4 separate regions of the Homo sapiens genome follow, and regions 1, 2 and 4 are each linked to region 3. The links come from fine-mapping of genetic effects on gene expression. A gene starts in region 3. Each other region holds a variant in brackets. All regions are shown on one strand. Distances are from middle to middle.

Region 1 (5,913 bases), 27 kb before region 3:
CCAGATCCTGAGCTCTCCAATCCAATTTTTCCCCCAATTTGACCTTGGATTTATGTATCTCAATTACTGTCTGCCTGTCCCAAAGAATAAAAGCTGTATCGCAGCAGGGACGTTGTTTAAAAAAATAATAATAACAGCTATATTTTTAGGATCCATGACACTGTCCAGCATATCGGTGGTATATGATAAAAAAGTTTGTTGAATGAATGAACAAATATATTATTCACAATGTCACATTATCCTGAACTGACAAGAAAATTAAATATCTGATGTCAGTATTGGCAACATTATGAAGTAAATATAATTCTGATACAGTACTGGTGAAAATCTAACAAGAGATGCTCATTTTAGAAAACATTTTCTTGTAGATTTGAAAATGTTTAATCTCCATGAACTAGTTGTATATCTGCAAGTTGTGTATCTTTGGGTTAGGCATCTGCCCCCCACCAAAGACAGCCACATCCCAGTCTTCAGATAAGGTGAACATGCTACCTTATATGCTAAAAGGGGCTTTGCAGATGTGATTACCATTAAGGGCATTGAAATGGGGAAATTACCTTGAATTATCTTGGTGAGTCCAATCTAATCTCATAATTCCTTGAGAGCAGAGAATATTTTCTGGATGCAGAGATTCAGACAGATGGCAGTATGAGAAAGATGTAGCCTGCTATTGCTGGCTTTTAAAACAGTGGAAGGGGGCCACAAGCCAAGGAAAGCCAGTGACCTTTAGAAGCTGGGAATGACCCAAAGTTTACAACCAGGAAGAAACCGAGGATCTCAATCCTACAACCACAAGGAACTGAATTCTGCCAACAACCCAGATTCTCTCTTAGAGCCTTCAGAAAGAAATGCAGCCTGCCAACATCTTGATGTTAGTTCAATGAGAGCCATACCAGATTTCTAACCAGAACAACTCTAAGATAATAAGTTTGTGTGTGTGTTTTAAAACAGGCTAACAGCTTACAAAAATGTGTTCTTTTAAGCCACTAAGTTTGTAGTAAATTTTTATAGCAGGAATAGAAAACTGATACAACCCATTCTAACTGGTGTGAGATGGTATCTCATTGTGGTTTTGATTTGCATTTCTCTGATGGCCAGTGATGATGAGCATTTTTTCATGTGTCTTTTGGCTGCATACATGTCTTCTTTTGAGAAGTGTCTGTTCATATCCTTCGCCCACTTGTTAATGGGGTTGTTTGCTTTTTTCTCGTAAATTTGTTTGAGTTCATTTTAGATTCTGGATATTAGCCCTTTGTCAGATGAGTAGATCATTAAAAAGTCAGGAAACAACAGGTGCTGGAGAGGATGTGGAGAAATAGGAACATTTTTACACAACCATTGTGGAAGTCAGTGTGGCAATTCTTCAGGGATCTAGAACTAGAAATACCATTTGACCCAGCCATCCCATTACTGGGTATATACCCAAAGGATTATAAATCATGCTGCTATAAAGACACATGCACACGTATGTTTATTGCGGCACTATTCACAATAGTAAAGACTTGGAACCAACCCAAATGTCCAATAACGATAGACTGGATTAAGAAAATGTGGCATATATACACCATGGAATACTATGCTGCCATAAAAAATGATGAATTCATGTCCTTTGTAGGGACATGGATGAAACTGGAAACCATCATTCTCAGCAAACTATCACAAGGACAAAAAACCAAACACCGCACGTTCTCACTCATAGGTGGGAATTGAACAATGAGAACACATGGACACAGGAAGGGGAACATCACACGCTGGGGCCTGTTGTGGCATGGAGGGAGGAGGGAGGGATAGCATTAGGAGATATACCTAATGTGAAATGATGAGTTACTGGGTGCAGCACACCAACATGGTACATGTATACATATGTAAGAAACCTGCACGTTGTGCACATGTACCCTAAAACTTAAAGTATAATAATAAAAAAAAAGAAAACTGATACAACCCTAGAGAAAGTCTTGTACATATGCCCTATAAACACACAACAGAATTTTTTTAATTTTTTTATTGAGATAAAAATGTATATATATATAATTTACCATCTGTACATTTTTAGAGGCCAGTTTAGTGGTGATAAATACATTTATGTTTGCTTTTCTTCATCTCCTCTTCCCACTCCCCTTGCTGGCCTCTAGCAACCACCAATTTACTTTCTATCTTCATGAGATCCACTTTTTCACCGCCCACATATGAGTGACAACATGCGATATTTGCCTTTCTGTGCTTAGCTCATTCCATTTAACATAATGGCCTATGTTCATTACGTTAAGCGAAATGGCCAGCACCACTTATGTTGCTGCAAATGACAGAATTTCATTCTTCTTTGTGTCTGAGTAGTAGTCCATGATGTATATATATTACTTTTAAAATCTGTTCGTTTGTTGATGACCACTTATGTTGATTCCATATTTTGGCTATTGTGAATAGTGCTGCAATAAACATGGGCATGTAGAGATGTCTTTGATACATTGATTTCCTTTATTTTGGATATATATCCAGTAGTGAAATTGCTGGACCACATGGTAGCTCTAGTTTTACTTTTTTGAGGAACCTCCATACAGTTCTCCATAGTGGCTTTATTAATGTAAATTCCCACCAACAGTGTACTAGTGTTCCCCTTTCTCCACATCTTTGCCAGCATCTGTTATTGCCTGTCTTTTTGATACAAGCCATTTCAACCAACATGAGCTGATATTGCATTGTGGTTTTGATTTGCATTTGCTTGATGATTAGTGATATTGAACATTTTTTCATCTTCCTATTGGCCTTTTGAATGTCTTCTTTTGAGAAGTATCTGTTCAGATCTTTTGCCCATTTTTT[T/A]AAAAAATTGTATCTATTTATATATTTTTAACAATTTTTTTAGAAGCAAGGTCTTGCTGTGTCACCCAAGATAAAGGGCAGTGGCTTAATCATAGCTCACTGTAACCTCAAACTCCTGGGATTAAGAAATCCTCCTACCTCAGCCTCTTCAGTAGCCCATTTTTCAATCAGATTTTTTGATTATTATTGAGTTGTTTGAGCTTTTTATATATTGCAGTTGTTACTCCTTTATCAGATGGATAGTTTGAAAATATTTTGTCCCATTCTGTGGTTGGCACTTCACTTTGTTGATTATTTCCTTTGCTTGAGGCTTTTTAGCTTGATATAATCCCATTGTCTATTTTTGCCTTTGTTGCCTGTGCTTCTGAGGTCTTACGCAAAAAAATCTGCCCGGACCAATGTCCTGGAGCATTTCTCCTATGCTTTCTTTTAGTAACTTCATAGTTTCAGGTCTTAGATTCAAGTCTTTAATCTATTTTTATTCGATTTGATTTTTGTATATGGTAAGAGGGGTTTAATTTTATCCTTCTTCATTTAGTTATTCAGTTTTCCCAGGATTATTTATTGAAAAGACTGTTCTTTGCCCAGTGTATGTTCTTGATGCCTTTGTCAGAGATGAGTTGTTTGTAAATGTGTAGATTTATGTCTGAGATCTCCATTCTGCTCCATTGTCCTGTGTGTCTGTTTTTATGCCAGTAGAAATATATTGGCAATAATTAGTACAGAAAAGCTGAAACAATGAAATGACAAAAGTGAATTATATTGATATAATTCATTATGCTCACTAAATGCAATAGCATGCAGCTAGGAAAAACAATGTAGTGCACACAGTATTAAAATAAAACACAATTCAATATACACAGTGCTCACAGTGGCCATCATTAGAGTGTTGAAGAAGGGGATGTAGTCAGCAAAAGTTGTACAGGTGACTTCAAAAGTAATCATAAGCACTTATGATTACTTTTGGCTTAATTTCTTAAACCAAGACTGGAGACACAAGTGTTCATTGTGTGCTTATTCTATATATATATTATAAATATTTTATAAATATATTGTTTCTATTCAGTATTTAATAAAGTAAATCAATAGAAAAGGTTAAAAAGCAATGCATACATATTTCAAATATTTTTTTGCTCCAAATTATATAAGCATTGCATAGTTATTGCCCTGGGCCAGGTAAGGTGGCTCACACCTGTAATCCTAGCACTTTAGGAGGCTGAGGCAGGAAGAGAGCTTCAGCCCCAGAGGTCAAGGCTGCAGTGAGCCGTAATTGCACTACTGCACTCCAGCCTAGGTGACAGAGCAAGACGCTGTCTCAAGATAAAAATAAAAATAAGTTAATAAATAAATAAATATATGTGTATATATTAACTGATTTTATTAAGTATATATATAGTTAATATATATAACTATACATATATGTAGTTACTGTCTTGGTCTATAGTCAATCTTACAGTGCTTAAGACATTGATACTGAGAACAGTTCTCCTAGGTATATGCTGTGTTTCTGGGGTGACATGATGCTCTCATCAGGCCTCTGTGAGCCTAATTCTATCTTACATTTACCCCACTCTTCAACAACAACTTGGGAAGGTGTCCCTAAATGTTCCTAGGTGAACCCAAACCTGTGGCCCTCAACACGTTTCTAGGTAAAGCAAGCTCCTGACATATCTGTGGATATCCTCTCATTAGAAGAAGGGGGAAGAGACCATCTCAAAGAAATTCATTTAATATAGCTTTTCAGCATTAATTTTATTTTGACAAAGAGACACAAAGTAAATAAAATTTCTAAAAAACTATAAACTTTCAAGCATTTTCACACTAAGTCTAGCCCTGCTCACATGCCAGGGAATTATAAAGGTGATCTGTTTCTCAACCTGACCAAGATGCTATAGTAATTAAAAATAAACTCAATCCCTGGATCTCTACCAAAGGGTCTTTTCATATGGATCAAAGTGTATCTACTCATCACATTCTGGAAAAATTATTTGTCTGGAAATAGACAAATTATCCAAAATATAATAGAAATAACAGCCTCTGGAAAGGGCCAAATAAGACTCTTAATGATACAACAGCTAAATCTAGGTCTGATGCTTATTCTGTGTGGACAACAATAGCAGAGCTAATGGCTGATTTGTGGGAAGTAAACATTATGTTTGCAGAATCGTACACGATTTCAGTAGAAGGGCAAGGAAATTTCAGTTGGGAACAGATTGCTCCATGGTAATGTGATCACTATGTACCCAACAATGGCTCTTTCTTCCTAGCGTCAATGCAGATGTTGTTTTATCCTTAACTGTTATCATTTCTGTTTCTAATCACATAAAAGTGTATCCGTTACATATCTGAAGTAAATTCATACTAGTGGTGTAACATCTCCAGCCATTTAAGTGTAAAAAGAGAAAACGTATGATGTGTTTACTCACTGTTTTATACTCTGTAACGCATGAAGATCCTTTTATTCATTGCCTGTACTTTTATTTTTAAACTTTCTGAAACACTTTATGTTATATCCAGCATAGAACTGAGTTTTCCTTTTTGATTTAATCTGACAATATTTTTTTCCTCTAATAAGAGAGTCAAGCCCACTTACTTTTATTGGTAAATTCTGTTTGGTTATATTTTGGTTACAGCATGTTATGCTATGATCTATATGCACGTATCTTCTTTTGCTGCCTTGTTTGTTTTTATTGATTTTGTTTTGATGTTGTGATATTTGGAAGAGTTAAATTTTTATTCTGATGGCTACCTTATGTAACTTCATAAAATCATCTCTTTCTTTAGACAGTAGCTAATGTCTCTAAACTAAGAACAATGGTATTAACTCTTTCTTGTCTTCCCTATGTGATCTTTCATCTCCCAATTTGATATAATAATATTAACTTTGTTTCCCCTGATGCCATTAAGTATGCCTACATTTCTATAAACAGTATCCTTTGACTCCCAGGCATTACAGACGAGCAGTCAGTAAAATCATTCTGCAGAATACCTTCTTTTTCCTTTTCTTCTATTTTTCTTAGTTGTATCATTTCTATATTGCCAGAGCACCTACAGTTGCATTTCTTTCTGTCAGCTTTATCCAGCATTTGTTTTTGT
Region 2 (5,913 bases), 46 kb after region 3:
TTTTTTTTTTTTTTTTTTTTTTTGTATTTTTAGTAGAGACAGGGTTTCTCCATGTTGCCCAGGCTGGTCTTGAACTCCTGAGCTCAGGCAATCCACCTGCCTTGGCTTCCCAAAGTGCTAGGATTACAGATGTGAGCCACCATGACTGGCTGGTTGTTATTTTTTCTATAGTTATTTTTATGCTTACATAAAAATATTATAACTTGAATATTTAATGTTTATTTATACTTGCCTCTCCATTTTTTTTTCAGAAAACAGATAAGTACAGCAGCTACCCAGTGTACCACACAATTTATGAGACATTTGAATTGGTAGAGAAATTTTATGACCCCACATTTAAAAAACAACTTTCTGTGGCTCAATTACGAGGAGCACTGGTATATGAGCTTGTGGATTCTAAAATCATTCCTTTTAATATTCAAGACTATGCAGAAGCTTTGAAAAACTATGCAGCAAGTATCTATAATCTATCTAAGAAACATGATCAACAATTGACAGACCATGGAGTATCATTTGGTAAGAAATAGTTGGGCAGATATTTTACAGTCTTTAAGTTAGAGCTTTAAGATATTATCTCCTATGATGATCAATGCATATTGTTTCATCCTAGAATACATATTTGCCTTACTTATTTTGACTTCTACACAAAAACTTAAAACAAACACCTATTAAAGAATCTGATTTAATCTGGCATGTATAGAATGAATCCATTATGGCTGAGTTATTACCACAAACATTGGGATGGTAAACATTTTTCTTGTATTATGGCCTTTAAAAACATTTTTACTGGCTGGGTGCGGTGGCTCACGCCTGTAATCCCAGCACTTTGGGAGGCTGAGGCGGGCAGATGATGAGGTCAGGAGATCGAGACCATTCTGGCTATTATGGTGAAACCGCGTCTCTACTGAAAATACAAAAAACTAGCTGGGCATGGTGGTGGGCGCCTGTAGTCTCAGCTACTCGGGAGGCTGAGGCAGGAGAATGGCGTGAACCTGGGAGGCAGAGCTTGCAGTGAGCTGAGATCGCGCCACTGCACTCCAGCCTGGGCGACAGAGCAAGGCTCCTTCTCAAAAAAAAAAAAAAATTTACTGTTATAGAAACAATATTAGAAAAATGTAACATTATTTGCAAAAGATTGAGAAAGCCACAAATACTATTACATACGTATTTTTAATTATTGTCAACAAAATGATTATTACTGCATATATCTTTTAGTGTTTGTCTATATGAAACATTTTTTCCATGGTTATAAGTATACTTTCCTTTTATTAATGACTGTTTAGTGGTTGCTCTTCTGCATTGTGCATCTCCTATACAGCAAGGATGACTCATAATGCAGTGTATGTAGTAGCATTGAGGATTGAGTTTGGAAGTGGTTTGCCTGGTTCAGATACTAGCTTTACCAGTTCTTCGTTATGTGACCTTGGGAAAGTTACTTAACTTCTCTATGTGTTAGCTTTCATACAATTAAAAGATAAAAAAGAACATATCATGTTTCAAAGATCATTGTGGAGATTCAGTTTGGTAATATATAGAAGCTGTGGTGGGTAGCACTTAGTGCTCATTAAATATTACCTATTACTGTTTTATTACAAACATTGTCTTTTATTATTCTGGGGGCACCTATTTTTAGTATATACCCAAATTATCAAATATGCCCTGAGTTTCTACTGTGTACCAAGTACTATGTTATTACCTGGGAGATATAAATGTGTACAAGGCATGGTCATAGTCCTAAGAAAGCTTAAAGTCTCATGTGGGGAATAAAGCAATATACAGATAATAGGTTACTATGGGGCTATGTAGAGAGTACTATAAAAACACAGAAAATGGGTATGGAATAGTAATGACTTCTGAATATTATTATATAAAGGATTAGTAATCTTTATATAATATTATATACAGGATTAGTAATAATAGCAAATACTATGGTCTAGAAAAAAAATGAAGCAAATAAAATGTGTTTATATCAATACAATTGGAGTATCTCTGCAGTGATGGGGGAAATAAGGAGAGATAAAACCAGAGAAATAAGCAGAGCCTACAGCAAAATGGACATTGGTAGTTCTGTGGCTATTCAGCATCCAGTTGTCTTCCTAAATTCCCTGATTTCCTTTTGGTGAATGATCTTTTATCAGTTTTTATAAGTCAGGGTCCAATTAAGAGACAGAAACCACACAGTTAGAGTGGAAGGGCTCTCTTTAGACAAGGTTAATTCTTCTACCTACTTACCTTCTTAGAGGCCTGGTTTGATCTGTTAATTCCTTTCCCTGTCATACTTTCAAAAATCACCATTACTATTGGTGACTATCCATTAGATTAATTATTCTTATAGCTTTTCTATTTCAAAAACATTTCTTCTGCCTGATGTGTCCCACTTTCTTCACAATCAAAATTCTTCATTTAGTGCCAGGCAGAAACAGTTCCTGAGAAAATGTGTTAGTGTAGGAATGAAGGTATAATTGATGAATGAATGAATGAATGAATGAATGAATACATAATCTACACTCCCTGTCTATAGTTTTTTACCTCTCACTAGCCAATCCACTGTGCTGTCTTATGTCCTTTCTACTCTAGTAAAACTGCTCTTGCAAAAGTCGTCATTGACATGTGTTACTAAATCCCAGGACACGTTTCAGTTATCTATCTTGACTTCTGTCCTGCATTTGAAATTTAAAATTCTGTTTTCAGCATTCTTTCCTCATAGTTTCTATTCTATCTCTTATTACATTCTTTGGTTTGAACTTGGCTTAAAACAACAATTAAAAGTTAAGGAAAATCTAGGACTAAAAGACTAGGACTAAAATCTAGGACTAAAATCTGGGACTAAGAAGGTTTTTAAAAATACTGAATATACTTATACTGAATGTACCACTTACTAGCTAAAGCATTTAGAGCTCAGGATTTCTATTAGGTCAGACCTAATAGAAATTAGGTAATAGAAATAGAAATTCTTTCC[A/G]TTAGGTGTGACCTAATAGAAATCCTGAGCTGTAAGTGCTTTATCTATAAAATGAATATCGTATCTCCTGATTTGCTTGCACCACAGGATTGATGCAAGCAACAAATCAATAATGTATGTTTAAAGTCCTGTGTAGAAAATATGGAAAATAATAAATTGTTGTAATAAAAATATAATATAGTCACCTCTCTATATTGGTGAGTTCTGCATCCATGTATTCAACCAACTGCAAGCCAAAAATATTCAGAAAAAAAAACCCATTAAGTTTCAAAAAAGCAAAACTTGAATTTGAATTTGTTGTGCTCTGAGCACTACATTGAATCCACATGAAGTTATATATAGGCATTGTATTAGGCATTATAAGTAATCTAGAGATGACTTAAAGTATAGGGGAGGATGTGTGTAGGTAACAGGCAAATACTATGCCATTTTATATAAGGGAGTTGCTTCCATGGAATATGGTTATCTGCAGGGGATTCTGGTACCCAGGCCTCACTGATACTGAGGTATGACTGTACTGAGAACCTAATCACTTTCCTCAGAAGCATTGTGAATTAAAGAAGAGTTTGACCAGATCAAATCTGATCCTCTTTCTCAGTATCTGGTTATATCAGTTTGTCACAGGTTGCCTGTTGAACAAGATCTTAAATGCACTATTTGAAAACAAGAATTGGTATTTTTTTTTGCCCTGTAATAATTACAGAATCATATCCTATGCATAGCTGTATCCAGTGTCTAGCATACAGTTGTTGTCCCAATGAATGAATGAATTAATAAAAAAATGAATTCTGGGTTTCTGGTAAACTATGGGTTAAGGAATTATTTGTGTCCTAGATTTTTGAAAGTCATTTCCTTTAAGAAACAATGTTACCATTTTTTGTTTTCAAACAATATTACTTTGTTATATTTTCTACTAATTTTCATGGATCTGCAAGAAGACTCAGTAGAAAAATGGCTTCGACATCTATGTGGTCATATCAATCTGGAATGGGGAGGGTGGGAAAGCGAACCTCTGAAATATGAGCTAATTTCTCTTCTTCTTTTCTATTTTTAAAAAAGACTCCTTATTTTCTGCTGTGAAAAACTTCTCAGAGGCTGCTTCAGATTTTCATAAACGACTTATACAAGTTGATCTTAACAAGTAAGTTTCAAATCCCTTTTTTTTTAAAAAAAAAAAAAAAAGCAATCTGGTTACTAGAATGAACTGTTTCACTCATATTAGCATTAACCTCTAAATCACTACTATTCAAATTATAGTCTGCAAATCAGCAATAGCAGTAGTACCTGAGAACTTGTTAGAAAGGCAAAATATCAGACACCAACCAAGACATGCTGAATTAGAATTTTGCATTTTAACTACCACCCCCACCCCGCCCTTCAATGATTTATACTAACAGTAAAGTTTGGGGAGCACTGCTCTGAATGGTAGACTAAAAACTCATCCCAAAGAGACAAGGGCCAAAGGTACCTGTCATTAGGAGTCTGCATGATGAAAATTCTGACTACAGCTGTAAATTCATAGCTTTATGAGTTTAAGTGCGTTTGTAATATATTTTACTAGTTCTTTGTTCAGTACTCCTGTGTACCAGTTTAGAAATTCTTTTTTCATGGATAATTTTTTTTGCATTTTATTTAATTTCTTGCCACTTTCACATTGAAAATAGTTTCAAAGTACATTCAAAGTAAATACCATGTAACAAGCATAAATTTATCCACAGATGTGTCCATGTCACATTTATTTTTTCAGATGTAATCAGAATAAACTTTGCTACTTCCCATATTGGAAGAAAGCTATTATCAGTAGTTTTAAGGGACCTCATTCTCCTTTGGATTGTAGGGGAGCCCAGGGAACTTACTCAACTCCCCAAAGGGATAGTCTGAGTGTGACAAGGGATTCCCTATCCATTATGTGCAGCTATCTCTTACCCTCCTTACAGGCTTCTGAAACCTTCATTCACTCTTTGTTGTCCAGCCTGTTATCTGCTCCTTTTTTCAGCAGTAGAACCGAATGACTTATCAGGAATAACTTGATAGCTCACTTTGTCTGCCTTTCCAGGAGGCCTGGCTGTCCTCCTAGAAGTATAGAATGTCTTTGAGTCCCTTTTGATTGGTGTGTGATGTAAAAAAATATAACAAACGATTTTCCAATAGGTCTCTCTGCTGACTGTAAATATTAGAAAGATGACTCTGCTGTTTGTGGCTCACCATGTAAAGCATTACTGTGTTAATATTCATTTTGTTAAAAATTGATCAATTTTAGAAATATATTTTCCCAAGCCTTGTTTTTATTTAATATTATTTTTGAAGCATGATTCTGCGGTTTGCGTTATAATTATGTATATGTTCTTCTCGAAGTCCCATTGCAGTGAGAATGATGAATGACCAACTGATGCTCCTGGAAAGAGCATTCATCGATCCTCTTGGTTTACCAGGAAAGCTGTTCTATAGGTAAGGAAACAACAGGCGCCAAATACATCACTGTGACCAAAACCAGCATACCTAAAGTTGGCTTTAAACTAATGCCATTAGATGGGTGAAAGGCAAATATGTACACTCTAGGGAATTTGGGTAAGATTGTACATTTAATAATAGGTATAATACATATTAGAAAAATAAATTTCATATTGTTTATTGCTTTGCTGTGAGGGAAAATGGTAAAGGCTAGTTAAAAAAGAACTCTTTCTAACAAAATCTTCAAACTGTAGAATCTTAAAGGGAATTTTAGAGCTTATCTAGTTCAACCTTCTACATAATCCTTTTTATAGAATCTCAGATAAATAGTTATCCAGTCTCAGAATCTTTTAGTGATGAGAAGCTTACTACTTCATGAGGAGGCTCATTTCACTTTATGAAAGGTCTAATTATTAGAAAGTTTTCTTCATAAAGATTTAACATCTATTTTCCTGTAATATTTTTCTCTTTGAGTTTGTTCTGTTAAAGTCAAATAAAATAAG
Region 3 (5,913 bases):
AAGAGCAATTTAACTTAAATGGAGGAAGTGGTGAGTTTTGTTATGTTAGAGGCTCACTGAATCATGAGCAGGTCAAATGTGTCAAATAGCTTCATTGAGAGACTGGTTTTCAATACTCAAAGTTTTTATATACTATTAGCTTTGATGGAGAAATTGAAAAGGATTGCCCTACGTCAACAGTGTTGCTTTGTTAAGTGTGCTTTGCAAAGTACAAGTATTTGCCAAGATGGTAATAATTAGCAATTACTTTTTGATAGCAGCCTTCTGTTACAAACTTAATTAACATAGAATTTTGAATGCTTGCAGTGTCTATATTGACAAAAGTCCAAAGACTTGTTGAGCCAGCTAACTGGGCTTTTTACAATGGCTTTTCAAGATTGCAGATGCCGCCTACAGAGACGACAGTCATATTTGAGGTAACATTGCTCATTCTTGGAACTCTTTAATCTAATTTTAATTTAGGGAGATTATTCAAACTGGCAAACTGTGTTAAATAATGCATTGATTTATTCTATTACTCAAACTTCAATTAGCAATAAAAAACACAAAATGAGCAAGAAAAAATAAATTTAATAAATAGCTTAGCAACTTTATTCATTAGTTTCTACCTTCTCTTTCTTCAGTAAATCTTTTCCTGGAGATAATTTTGATCTGCCTCTTGAGGGCTATGTAGTCAACAGTGAATGGTCCAATGGGTAGCAAATAGAAAAAGCCAAGAGTCTAAAAATTGACAAATTACACAATCAATACCCAAAATGTTTATATGTACAAAAATAACATTTGATATTGTTTGAGACCTTTGTGTGTCACCTGTTAAACACTGGAGAGTTATTAAAATCCCAGTATTATTTCATAATGTCACACATAAAAATAATTCTGAGTGCTCTTGGAAAATGTTTCTTAAGCCATATTTGAGGGGTTTAGTTACTTCACTGGATATTGAACCTTTTGAATAATTCTATTCTAATTCCCTATATTTGGTGTTGTGTGTATGCATATAAGGGGGAACAAACTCACTTTGTTATGAAAATGTTTTTTGAAAGATGTTTCTCTCTAAAATAAAAAACACTGGAGGAGTCAGTCAAGGAATGTCTAACAGGCTAGTAGCTGAAAAAGCTGAAGTTAGTTGGGACTTAAATTGCATGCAAACATTTAGAAATCAACAGTTCATTAAGGAGGTTTGCTTCAAAGTTAAGTACCAGGTATGCTACAAAAGTTTCAAGAAATAAGTTATTAGGCATACCTATCAACAATTATGTTCAATTGATAGCCATTGAAATACAAGGACAAAAAAAAGTTATGTCCCAGAAAAATAAATTTCACTCTTCCAGTCACTTGTTAGGAGCAAAGGTGCATTACCTAAAGCTATCAGGGCTGCAGACAATGCTGTGAAGTTTATCCTAGATATACTACCATCTTTGAAATCAACATAGCAGTTTTGCTTTGGCTGAAAAAACTACTTTTGGTTAGATACGTGAAGCCAATCATAAATTCCTAAAATTTTTCTCTGAGATGAGATGGTTGGATGAAGGCTATTTACAATGGCCACTATTTTGCAAACCCATCTTTAAAGAGAAATGCTTCATGAATGTAGCATGGTGAGGACAGGGGAATGACAGGGACCATTGCTAATGTAGGGGTCAATGGAAAGCTTCCCCTTCACCCTCTGAAGTTTTGCTGGAAAATCAACTCACAAAAGGCAGACTATTAGAAAAAAAAAAGGCTTACAAATTTATGAATAACATAGCATAAGGGAATCGTAGTAGAATGATTACCCAATAACCAATGAGGTACAGATGATAATATACCCATCTTTTTAGAGGAAAGGAAGATGAGAATGTGTGTATAATTTTAAGAGGGTAGTAAATGAATTTTAGGGAAATTCAATGGGCTTGAAGAATATGCAATGGCCTGGGACAAAGTCTGTTGGCCCTACAGGGCAGACGAGAGTTTGTAACAGAAGGCTGCCAGTTGTATTGACAGACTGCAGTCCTTCTTCCTGAGATATTAGTTCGGTTAATGAAAACTCAGGAAAGAAACTCTTTTTTTTTTTGTTTGTTTGTTTTTGCCTTTAGTAGTTCTGGACTTTAGGCAGATAAGGGAACTTTAGAGAACAGCTTTATTCTGTGCTATGGGAGAGACAAAGGATTGAGAGAGAGGAGCTGGAAGAGAGGGGTATGGTCAGAGAGACCCCCTGGCTTCTTCGGTTTAGCATGTCAAAGCACCATATTTTGGGAAATTGGTGTCTGAGCTTTAGCATTAAGAACAGACTCTCAGTAACTACTGGCAGTGCAAGGTCCTTTCAGTGATTACTTTTACTAATGTGAACCTAAAACATTCCAGTGAGGTAGGTAAAAACCTCAGTTAAATGAGTGGAAACAGAATTACAGAAATGTGGAGTTTTGTTTAAGTAAAGGGGAACAAAAAAACGCAATCCCATCGATTTTGATGCTGACAGTGATTGCGGTATTAGTGATGTTAACAGCTTTAACAGCGGAGCACCCAGGACCAGAAATCATTTCCGAGTCTGACGAGTGGGAAATTACAGCAGAGAATCTGGAAGAAGAATAACCAATAGATCAGGAAAAGCAATACTTAAATTCACTTCTGAGCCGAAACTGGGCATTTTGGGGGATGGGCATGGCAAACAGCAGTAGAGTTCTTTAGGAAAAAATTAGGGACGTTTTCAGCAGCTCCCGCCACCTACTATGTCCGGGTTACTGCGGGATCCACAGAATGGAAGTTGCCCGCCAACAGGAAGAATGTCTCCTCCCTCTGCAGGGCTTCCTTTCCCCCATCGAGGGCCCCTGGGGACCACAGGTCCCCAGCGGGTAGGGCGGAGGCGTGGCCTTGCGAAGGTCAGCGGAGGCCACCCAGAGCTCACAGCCTCCTGCCAGCGCGCTCTCTGTTTCTCTGCAGCCCCGAAGCTCGCGAATGTAGCAGGCGCCCCAAGCTCGGTCCTCAAGAAGCCATGGCGGAATCCAGGGGCCGTCTGTACCTTTGGATGTGCTTGGCTGCTGCGCTGGCATCTTTCCTGATGGGATTTATGGTGGGTAAGTGAACAAAACACTCTACCCCGACTCCGGGGCTCGTGATTCTCTGCAGAGATAAAGGGAGAAATCCTGGAGCTGGAAGGGATTGGGCTGTGCGCTAGCCCTGGCCGGCTGGGCTAGATATGATAAACTCTGCACATTTCAGCAAAACTAGAAACCAGATGGAATGTATTTTGGGCTTGCTAATAGATAAAGTGTGCTTGAAATTCAAATTTATTAAATGTTCACTGAGTTCACTAAAGACAACCTACAGCTGTCACTGTCTGCAGGGATGAAAAAAAATCGTTTTATTTCCAAGCAACATTAGTGAGTCAAAACTTTCAACTAATACGGGCAGCATTAAAAACAAAGCAAAACGAAACAAAGCAAAACAAAACCCTGCTCTATACGTAAATAAATATTTGTGGAATGTTCCCTATGTGTCAGGGACTAGAGATCCAGGGAAGAACAACAAAAGCCATGCCTTCATGCATAACGTGAGAAAATGAAAGAGCTTCTCTTAAATAAAACTCCTTTTAAGCATCTAAAAATTATATTACATATCAGAATTTACAGGTTTTCTGCATTTAATATAAACATTATTTTTTAAAGCTCACCATGATCTACTTGTCAGATAAAGGCTTTTTGGGGGGAAGGACAGAGGGGTGGCTTCTAGTTTTAATAAAGTCAAAGTGATTTTGTGTGTATGTGTGCATGTTTGTGTATTTTTTTTCCTTAGGCTGGTTTATTAAGCCTCTCAAAGAAACGACCACTTCTGTGCGCTATCATCAAAGTATACGGTGGAAACTGGTATCCGAAATGAAAGCTGAAAACATCAAATCATTTCTTCGGTAAGTTTATTTTACGTATTTGATCTTAAAAATCATGTTTAAAATATCACAGTGAGAAGCATATTATACCTGGTTATATGCATGAGGACAGTCTTCTCTGTGTGAAATTACATATTAGTCATCAACTTTTTTTTTTTTTTTAATGTCTCTTTACACCAGTCTTGGGGTGAAAAAGTAGGTCTTTCTTCCCTAACTTTATGTAACAAAAAGTATCTGGTTGGCTTATTGAGAGATGTTTCAACTTCATGTAACTTTGGATCTAACTGAATGTTATTCTTTGTTCATCAGTGCCTGGGTTTTAATCAGCAATTTTCTTAGATACCATATTCTGTCAGGGAAAGTTAGATGATGGTTGACTAAGTGATTTAGTGGAAAAGTGATCAAAGTGTCTGATTCTGTCTGCCAAAAGTTAAACCTTTATCCCATCTTGCAGGTATAAATTTGTTTTTTACAAATAAGACAAAATGAAACCAAAAAGAATCATTGCCATTCCTCCAGCTTCTAACCATGAAAAACAGTGGAAATTGGGGGAGTGATCATAAACTCCTTAAGAACAATGGCCATGGTATTTATTTCTGTATTCAGACTCTTTCAAATGGGTGTTATTTTTTAAAATCAGCTTTAGTGAAGTATAATTTACATAAAATAAACTGCATCCCTATAAAGCCTACAATTTGAGAGTTATGACAGACGTATGCTATGCTGAACAAACCACCTCCTCCATCATGCTACAAAAATATTCCATTATGCCCTTTGCAGTTTATTCCCCATCCCCCTCCATCTCTGTCACTGGGCAATCACTAACCAATTTTATATCACTGGAGATTCATTTGCATTTTCTAGAATCTTATTTAAATGGAATCATATAGTATATGTTCTTTTGTATCTAGCTTCTTTTACTCAGAATAATGATTTTGAGATTCATCTAGATTGTTGCATGCATTAGTAGTTCATTATTTTTATTGCAGACTAGAATTCCATTGTATGGATATATTGCAATGTATAATTGATGGAAATTTGGGTTGATTATAGTTTTTGACTATTGTGAATAAAGCTGCTATGAACAGATGTTTACAAGTCTTTCTGTGGATATGTGGTTTATTTCTCTTGAAATGGTTGAGTTTGATGATAAGCATAAGTTTAACTTTTTAAGAAAATGCCTAAGATAAGTGAAAAGTGGTTGCATCATTTTGCATTTCTACCTCAAAATAAGGAAATCAGTATTCCAAAGAGATATGTGCACTCTGATATTTACCACAGCAATATTCACAATAGCCAAGATACCAAATCAACCTGATGATCAACTTCCATCAACAAATATTATGGTGTATATACAGGATGGATTATTACTCAGCATAAAAAAGAAAGAAATCCTATCATTTGTAGCAAAATGAATGGAACTAAATGTCATTATATTAAGTGAAATAAGCCAGGCACAGAAAGACACATATTGCATGATCTAACTCATATGTGGGAGCTAAAAAAAAATTGATCTCATGGAGACAGAGAATAGAATGATGGTTACCAGAAACTAGAAGGGTAGTGAGGAGGGCAGACAATACTGAGGGGTTGGTTCAATGGGTACAAAAATACAGTTAGATAGAAGGAATAAGATCTAGTATTACATAGCACAATAGGGCAACTATAGTTAACAATAATTTATTGTATATTTCAAAATAACTAGAGTGGATTTGAAATGTTCCAAACTCAAAGAAATGATAAATGTTTGAGGTGATAGATATCCTAACTACTCTGATTTGATCATTACTTATTGTATGCTTGTATCAAGATATCACATATACCCTATAAATGTGTACAAGTAGTAGGTAGCCATAAAATTTAAAAATAAATAATTTTAGAAGTCTATTCACGGCTTTGGCTTATTTTGTATTTAGATATAAGTTGTTTTCCCCCTGTGGAGTTTTTTGTTTGTTGTTGATGTTGTTGTTTTGAGACAGAGTCTCACTCCATCACCCAGGCTGGAGTACAGTGGTGCAATCTCAGCTCACTGCAACCTCCATGTCCTAGGC
Region 4 (5,913 bases), 97 kb after region 3:
TGAGACTAGGTAATTTATAAGAAAAGATTTAATTTGCTTATGGTTCTGCAAGCTTTACAGGAAGCGTAATTTCTGGTGAGGCTTCAGGAAGTTTTACTCATGGTAGAAGGCAAAGCAGGAGCTTGCACTTCACATGGCAAAAGCAGGGAAAGAGAGAGAGAGTTGGGGAGGGGAGGTTCCACAGACTTTTAAATGACCACCAGATCTCAGAGCAAGAGCTCACCTATCACCAAGGGAATGGCCCAAGCCATTCATGAAGGATGGACTCCCATAATCCAAACACCTCCCACCAGGCCTCACCTTCAAGACTGGGGATTATATTTCAACATGAGATTTGGATGGGGGCGAATATCTAAACTATAACACCATCTGAGGCTGGAAAGGTAGACAGAGGCCCAACAACACAGGCAGCCTGAGAGGCAGCTGTAAGGATGATTAAAAGGCTTTTATCCTTAGGGCAAAGAGGAATAATTGAAAGGAGTTTTCCATTAATGTGATTTTTCCAGAAATCTCAAAATTAACTGAAGGCATGCAATAATCCAAAGAGCCCTTATTCAACAAAAGTGCTAAATATTGGTAAGAACAACAAATTGTGTGACATTTTAATTTCCCTATTTCCATTCTCTTCTTTATACCTAAATGGTAGGTATAAAATCCAGCAGCCTCTCAACAATAGGTATGTAAAGTGGAATTCTAGAAGCTACAAGAGGAGGCAGAATGGCATTGTCTAAGCATTGACCCATCTGACAGCTCCTTGGAAAAGCTCAATTTTTAAGGCTTGTGATCGTTTTGACTTACTGAAAGCTTGTTGATTGGGAAAAATCTTGTTTCTAGGACATTTGCTGAAAACAATCAAAAGTGATTGTTTAACATGGCAGCTGCCTGAGGAGACTATACGAGTTGAGGCCAATAAGAAGCTGGCCAATAAAAATGTAAATGGAAGAGTTTATGAGTGAGATAACACCAGAATCTTTGAACAACACTGACATATTCCTAAGGAATGTGAAGAAAGCCACATCCATGAGTAGGGCTGTGTCCATGTAAAAGAATGATCTGAGAAAGTTCCATCCTCTCATCTCTACTTGAACTTTAGGTCCTTTGAAGCAGGAAGGGAAGACTAATGCAGAATTGTAAACTATCAAAACATTGAGAGCCTGTCAATACATACAAAGAGCCTCTCAACAAATAATATACAGCTTATTCACTCAGGGTATATAAGGAAATCTCTGTCCAATCACGAGCTTAACTACAAAGCTAACTGTACAGAGGACTCAGTGGCCACAAATAACAGGGAATAAAGAGTTTACAGAATTAGTCCAGGAGATAAATAATAACAACAACAACAACAACAATAAATGGCAATCAAAAGAAAGGCTGGGAGGAGATAATCTGATTTCTAGAGTTGTCACATTATATTATATAAAATATCCAGTTTTCAATAAAAAATTATGTCTTGTAAATAAGAAGAATGGCTCATATACAGGAAGAAAAAAAAGCATGCAATATAAACTGTCCCTGAGGTAGATATTGGACGTAATAGGTAAAGACTTTAAATCAATTATTATAAATATGTTCAAAGAAATAGAAGAAACTAATTCTAAAAAACAAAGAGACTGATGTCTCAGCAAATATTACTAATGAAGAAATAAAAAGTAAAAATTCTCAAATTGAAAAGTATAATAACTAAAAATTTACTATAAGGATTCAATAGAAGATTAGTCCTGGTAGAAAAAGAGAATTTGAATATAGGTCAGTTTACATCATCTAGTCTAAGGAACAGGAAAAAAACTGAATAAATAAAGATACATAAAGTCTCAGAGACTAATTGAACAGTATCATGCTTACCAGCATACACATATTAGAGTCACAGAAGAAGAGAATATGGGAAAAGGGGAAGAAACAGTACTTGAAGGTATAATAACTAAAAACTTCTCAAATGTAGTTAAAACATTAATGTACACATCTGAAAAATTTAGGAACCCCCAGTAAGACAAACTCAAAGAGATGAACATATACAAAATAATAAAATTGTCAAAAGCCAAAAATACTGAGAGAATTTTGAAAGCAGTAAGAGAAAAATGGGTCTCCACATATAAGGGATTCTCTGTAAGATTAACACATGATTTCATTTCCAAAACACTGTAGTCCAAACAGAAATAGGATGACACAGTCAAAGTCATAAAAGAATAAGATCATCAACTAGTCTATTTTGCAAAATTATACTTCCAAAACTAAGTATAATATTTATAGATTTCAAGTATTAGTATGTGGGCATCTTGTGAGGGTGAGGCATTATTTAGCCTACCACAATACCAGTATCATAAGGTTCTCCAAAGCAACTGAAAATGGTTTCCATCAGTTTGGTCTTATCCATATCTGTCCTTGACTTAAACTACTTCTGAGTGATATAAATATTTAAAGCCTTTTCCAATATCTGATTTATTTATTTCCTGGTGAATTAATACCCTCTAAACTCCCCAGTTGTAAAATGAAGAATTTAGGAGGTTGTGTTCTCTAGATAGTGAAATGATTAAAAATATTAT[G/T]AACTTCTGAGTTGAAAACAGATTAGACTCTCCAACACTTAATAAGGATGTGGTTTTAGGAAAGGTATTTTACTTTCGATGTCTTATTTGTAAAATGAATTCAATATTGTCTACTTCTTTAGTTTTATTGGTCCATAGATAAAGAAAATTGTGCTACCAGGTAGATCATATCCAGAATCTCACCCACACCTAATTTAGATTATTTAGATGATGAGATTTGGATGAGATCTGAGGATTTGAATTGATGCTATAATGGGTTCAGAAATTTTGAGGACCTTGAGATGGAGCAAACATTTGGAGTAACATTAATCTGGCAGCCAGAGGGCCAGATGTGATGTGTAGAATAAGGTTTACCCAAGAATTTGTATACCTTAATTCCTAGAACTCTGAATATTATGTTACATGGCAAAGGGGATGTAAGGTTGCAGATAGAATTAAGATTGCTAATTAGTAGACATTAAAATAGAGATTTTCCTGGACATCCAAATGGGCTCAATGTAATCTCAAGCTTCCTAAAAAGTAGGAGAGGCTATACAAGAAGAGGTTAGGGTGATGTGATGTGAGAAGGACTCGACTCACTGTTGCTCACTTTGAATATGGAGAAAGCAGTTTACAAGCCAATAATGGTGGGTAGCCTCTAGAAGCTAGAAAGGGAAGGAAACACACTTTCCTCTCTAACTTCCAAAAAGGAACATAGTCCTTTTGACACATTTGTTTTAGCCTAGTGAGACCTGTGTTGGACTTCTGACATACAGAGTTGTAAAATAATACATTTGTCTGTTTTCAAGCCACTATAATTTAGGTAATTTAGTACAGGAGCAAGAGAAAATTAATACCTGTTTGAGTTTCCATGAGGATTAAATTTAATTAATGCATATAATACTGGTTTCCCAGTTACAGGTTAATTAATAGAAATTCATGTTATATTTCTCCTGATAGCTCTTTCCTCTTTTTAGATTTTATTAATGAGGAGAATTGAAATCACATTATTAATATTAAACTAATAGCTTTCATGTTATATATCCCCTTTGGAAATAATTTTTGTAATTTATATTCAGTTTTGTGACCATATCTGCAATATTTCTACTTAGTCATATGTTTAATTTGCTTTAATAACCGCTGTCAACATACCATAATTTACTCATATCAGTTTCTTAACTTTAGAGTGATGTTGTTTCTGAATTCTTTTAGTTCTAAGGTGTCTCTTTTGAATGACAACTTACCTGGACATCAAATTTTGGGTCAAAATCACTTTCTGTCAAAATTCTTCTTTAGGTATAACTGCTATTTTCGGATGTTTGGTATTGCAAAAGAGAAGCTGGAAGCCAGAGTAAATTTTGTTTATAGGTTATCAGTGTTTCCTCTTTGGATACTTGTGGACTTTTTCAAAACTGTCATGTCATATATGTTGCTAGCTTCTGCATTCAGTACTTTTGCAGACTAGGTACCCTGATCAACTGTCCCATGGAAAACAATTTAAAACATGGGATACAATTCTTTAAAACTTTTTATACATTCACCAATGCAAGAACATCAGAAATACTCAGGGGACAAAAACTATGAGAAAGAGCAATCTTTAGCTCCAAAGCTGAAACATTGAGGATGGCTGTCATCTTGAAATGATCTTGTGCTCAAGTTGTCACCAAGAGCAAGAGAAAAGAGAAACATTCCTGGATCTGTCTGAGGTGGAACTGTTGAGAAAATTTGCCCTCCCTTCCTTTATTAAGCTGGGAAAGCAAAGGGCTATATCCCTGCTATAAAAATGAAATATAAACCTACATTGCTCTTTCTCTTTCTTTTCCTTCATCCTCTATAGAAGACTACCAGGAGCATTGCTTGCTTCACATCTCAGGTATAAGTAAAGAAGGAAAAAAGCCAACCTTTACTCAGGTTGGTAGTCAAGATTCACACTCTAGAGATTGTTAAGAATATTTTTAAAACTCTAAAGTAAAAATTTAGTGTGAAGTGCTCTTTTTAAATTGCCTGATAAAAGCAATATACATTCTCTCTACATGCACCTACTTCAAGCTAGGCCTCAAAAGATACCAATAGATAAAGTTGCAGGAAATGTGAGCTCTCAATGAAAAAAAAAAAAAGTATAAAATACCATGAATGAAAGCTAACAAAACAATAGTGGAATTAAACTGCTAAAGGGTTGAAATTTATCAAATACAATAGATTTAAAGAAATAAAAAGGACTGACAACGTAAGTAAGAACAACAAACTTCAAAAATGAAAAAGAAAAAGAATCAGAAACAGCCAGAAATAAAAATATATATAGTTAAAAGTTTATGAATAAGCTTAATAGCTGATAGACCCACCCAAAAGAAGGATTTTTGAACTGGAATATAGAACTGAAAAAAATACATAGAATGCAAAAGAGAGAGAAAAAGAAATTGAAAATACAGAAAAAAGGTAAATACAAGAGGAGATTAAGAAAGTCAGATATTTGTGTAATCAGAGAAGGAACAGGGCAGAGTAAAATAGAGATAGTATGTAAGAAGATAATTGGTAAGAATTTTCCAGAAATGATAGATGAGTAAGTACAGAGTCAGGAATCTCAATGAATCTCAAGCAGAAAGAAAAAAATTACAATATTTTTAAAATTGTAAAGTAGCGAAAGCAAAAGAGACCTTGCAGAAGCTGTAGAGAAAAGACAGAGTATGTAGCAATTGACAATGGAAGCCTGAAAAGAGCAGCATTATACTATCAGTAGCCAAGATAAAAATGTTTTACCGTCTCATTAAACGTTATATACTCAATAATATAATATTCAAAATGAGCCAAAAATGTGTATAAATATATAACACAGATAGAAATACAATAATAATGGGTTATATTAGAACACCCCTTAGCCTTTGACAGATTAAGTAGAATGATCCACTCCAAAAAAAAGAAGCAAGATAGGATCATAGAGAATTTTATTTTGTATTAAAATATAGTAGGTAGTGGCAAGCTATTTTTTCTTCTATTTCAACAACTATAAAAAGAAATACATCATAAGATTATATTTTTAAAGACATTGCATAGGTGTAGAAGCAAAGAAGCTTATATATCAACTAAAATTTTAAAGACAAGAATTCTTCCTAGTTGAATTGTTAATCAGTCTTTCCTCTTTGAGGTCACTGGATTAAGACTGAGCTTGCCATAGATAGAAAAGCTCTACTAAGTTTAGCTAAATGAATAAACAAACAAAGTGAGCTTTCTAAAAACTGCTGCACGGGCTGGCATGACAAACTGAAATCCAGAGAAACCAAAGACATTGTTGACTAAAGAAAGAAAAATAAAGCTTTTAAAGAATTAAAGTTAGTTTTATTCACAAGCCTTACTGAGGACTGTAGATGATTATAGCCTGAAAGGAGTCTTTTGG

Which allele goes with the higher level. Positions count from the first base shown, and alleles are read on the strand shown. Sizes are in standard deviations (SD) of each study's normalised expression. Not every link is listed here.
For the expression in aorta of the gene that starts at base 2,876 in region 3, allele T in region 4 goes with a higher level than allele G (large effect, 1.3 SD a copy in GTEx).

Evidence for each region. PIP is the estimated chance that this variant, and not a neighbour inherited with it, causes the effect.
Region 1: its variant is fine-mapped to the expression of NAALAD2 in lung (TOPMed, PIP above 0.99).
Region 2: its variant is fine-mapped to the expression of NAALAD2 in lung (TOPMed, PIP above 0.99). The same link has a PIP of 0.9 or more in testis.
Region 4: its variant is fine-mapped to the expression of NAALAD2 in aorta (GTEx, PIP 0.97).

Annotation. Positions count from the first base shown.
Region 1 is chr11:90,105,137-90,111,049 of GRCh38, forward strand. No RefSeq gene overlaps it. Among named protein-coding and RNA genes, the nearest start is that of UBTFL1, 22 kb to the left of the region's middle. The variant T/A (reference allele first, on the strand shown) is at 2,818.
Region 2 is chr11:90,177,602-90,183,514 of GRCh38, forward strand. It overlaps NAALAD2 (N-acetylated alpha-linked acidic dipeptidase 2), which reads left to right. Exons shown (of 19, transcript NM_005467.4): 16 at 252-516; 17 at 4,019-4,100; 18 at 5,315-5,407. Among named protein-coding and RNA genes, the nearest start is that of CHORDC1, 42 kb to the right of the region's middle. The variant A/G (reference allele first, on the strand shown) is at 2,960.
Region 3 is chr11:90,131,788-90,137,700 of GRCh38, forward strand. NAALAD2 (N-acetylated alpha-linked acidic dipeptidase 2) reads left to right here and starts at 2,876. Exons shown (of 19, transcript NM_005467.4): 1 at 2,876-3,053; 2 at 3,772-3,883. The coding sequence starts at 2,972. RefSeq lists an enhancer at 2,780-3,483.
Region 4 is chr11:90,228,977-90,234,889 of GRCh38, forward strand. All of the region lies in intron 1 of LOC124902812 (a long non-coding RNA gene), which reads left to right. Among named protein-coding and RNA genes, the nearest start is that of CHORDC1, 8.9 kb to the left of the region's middle. The variant G/T (reference allele first, on the strand shown) is at 2,544.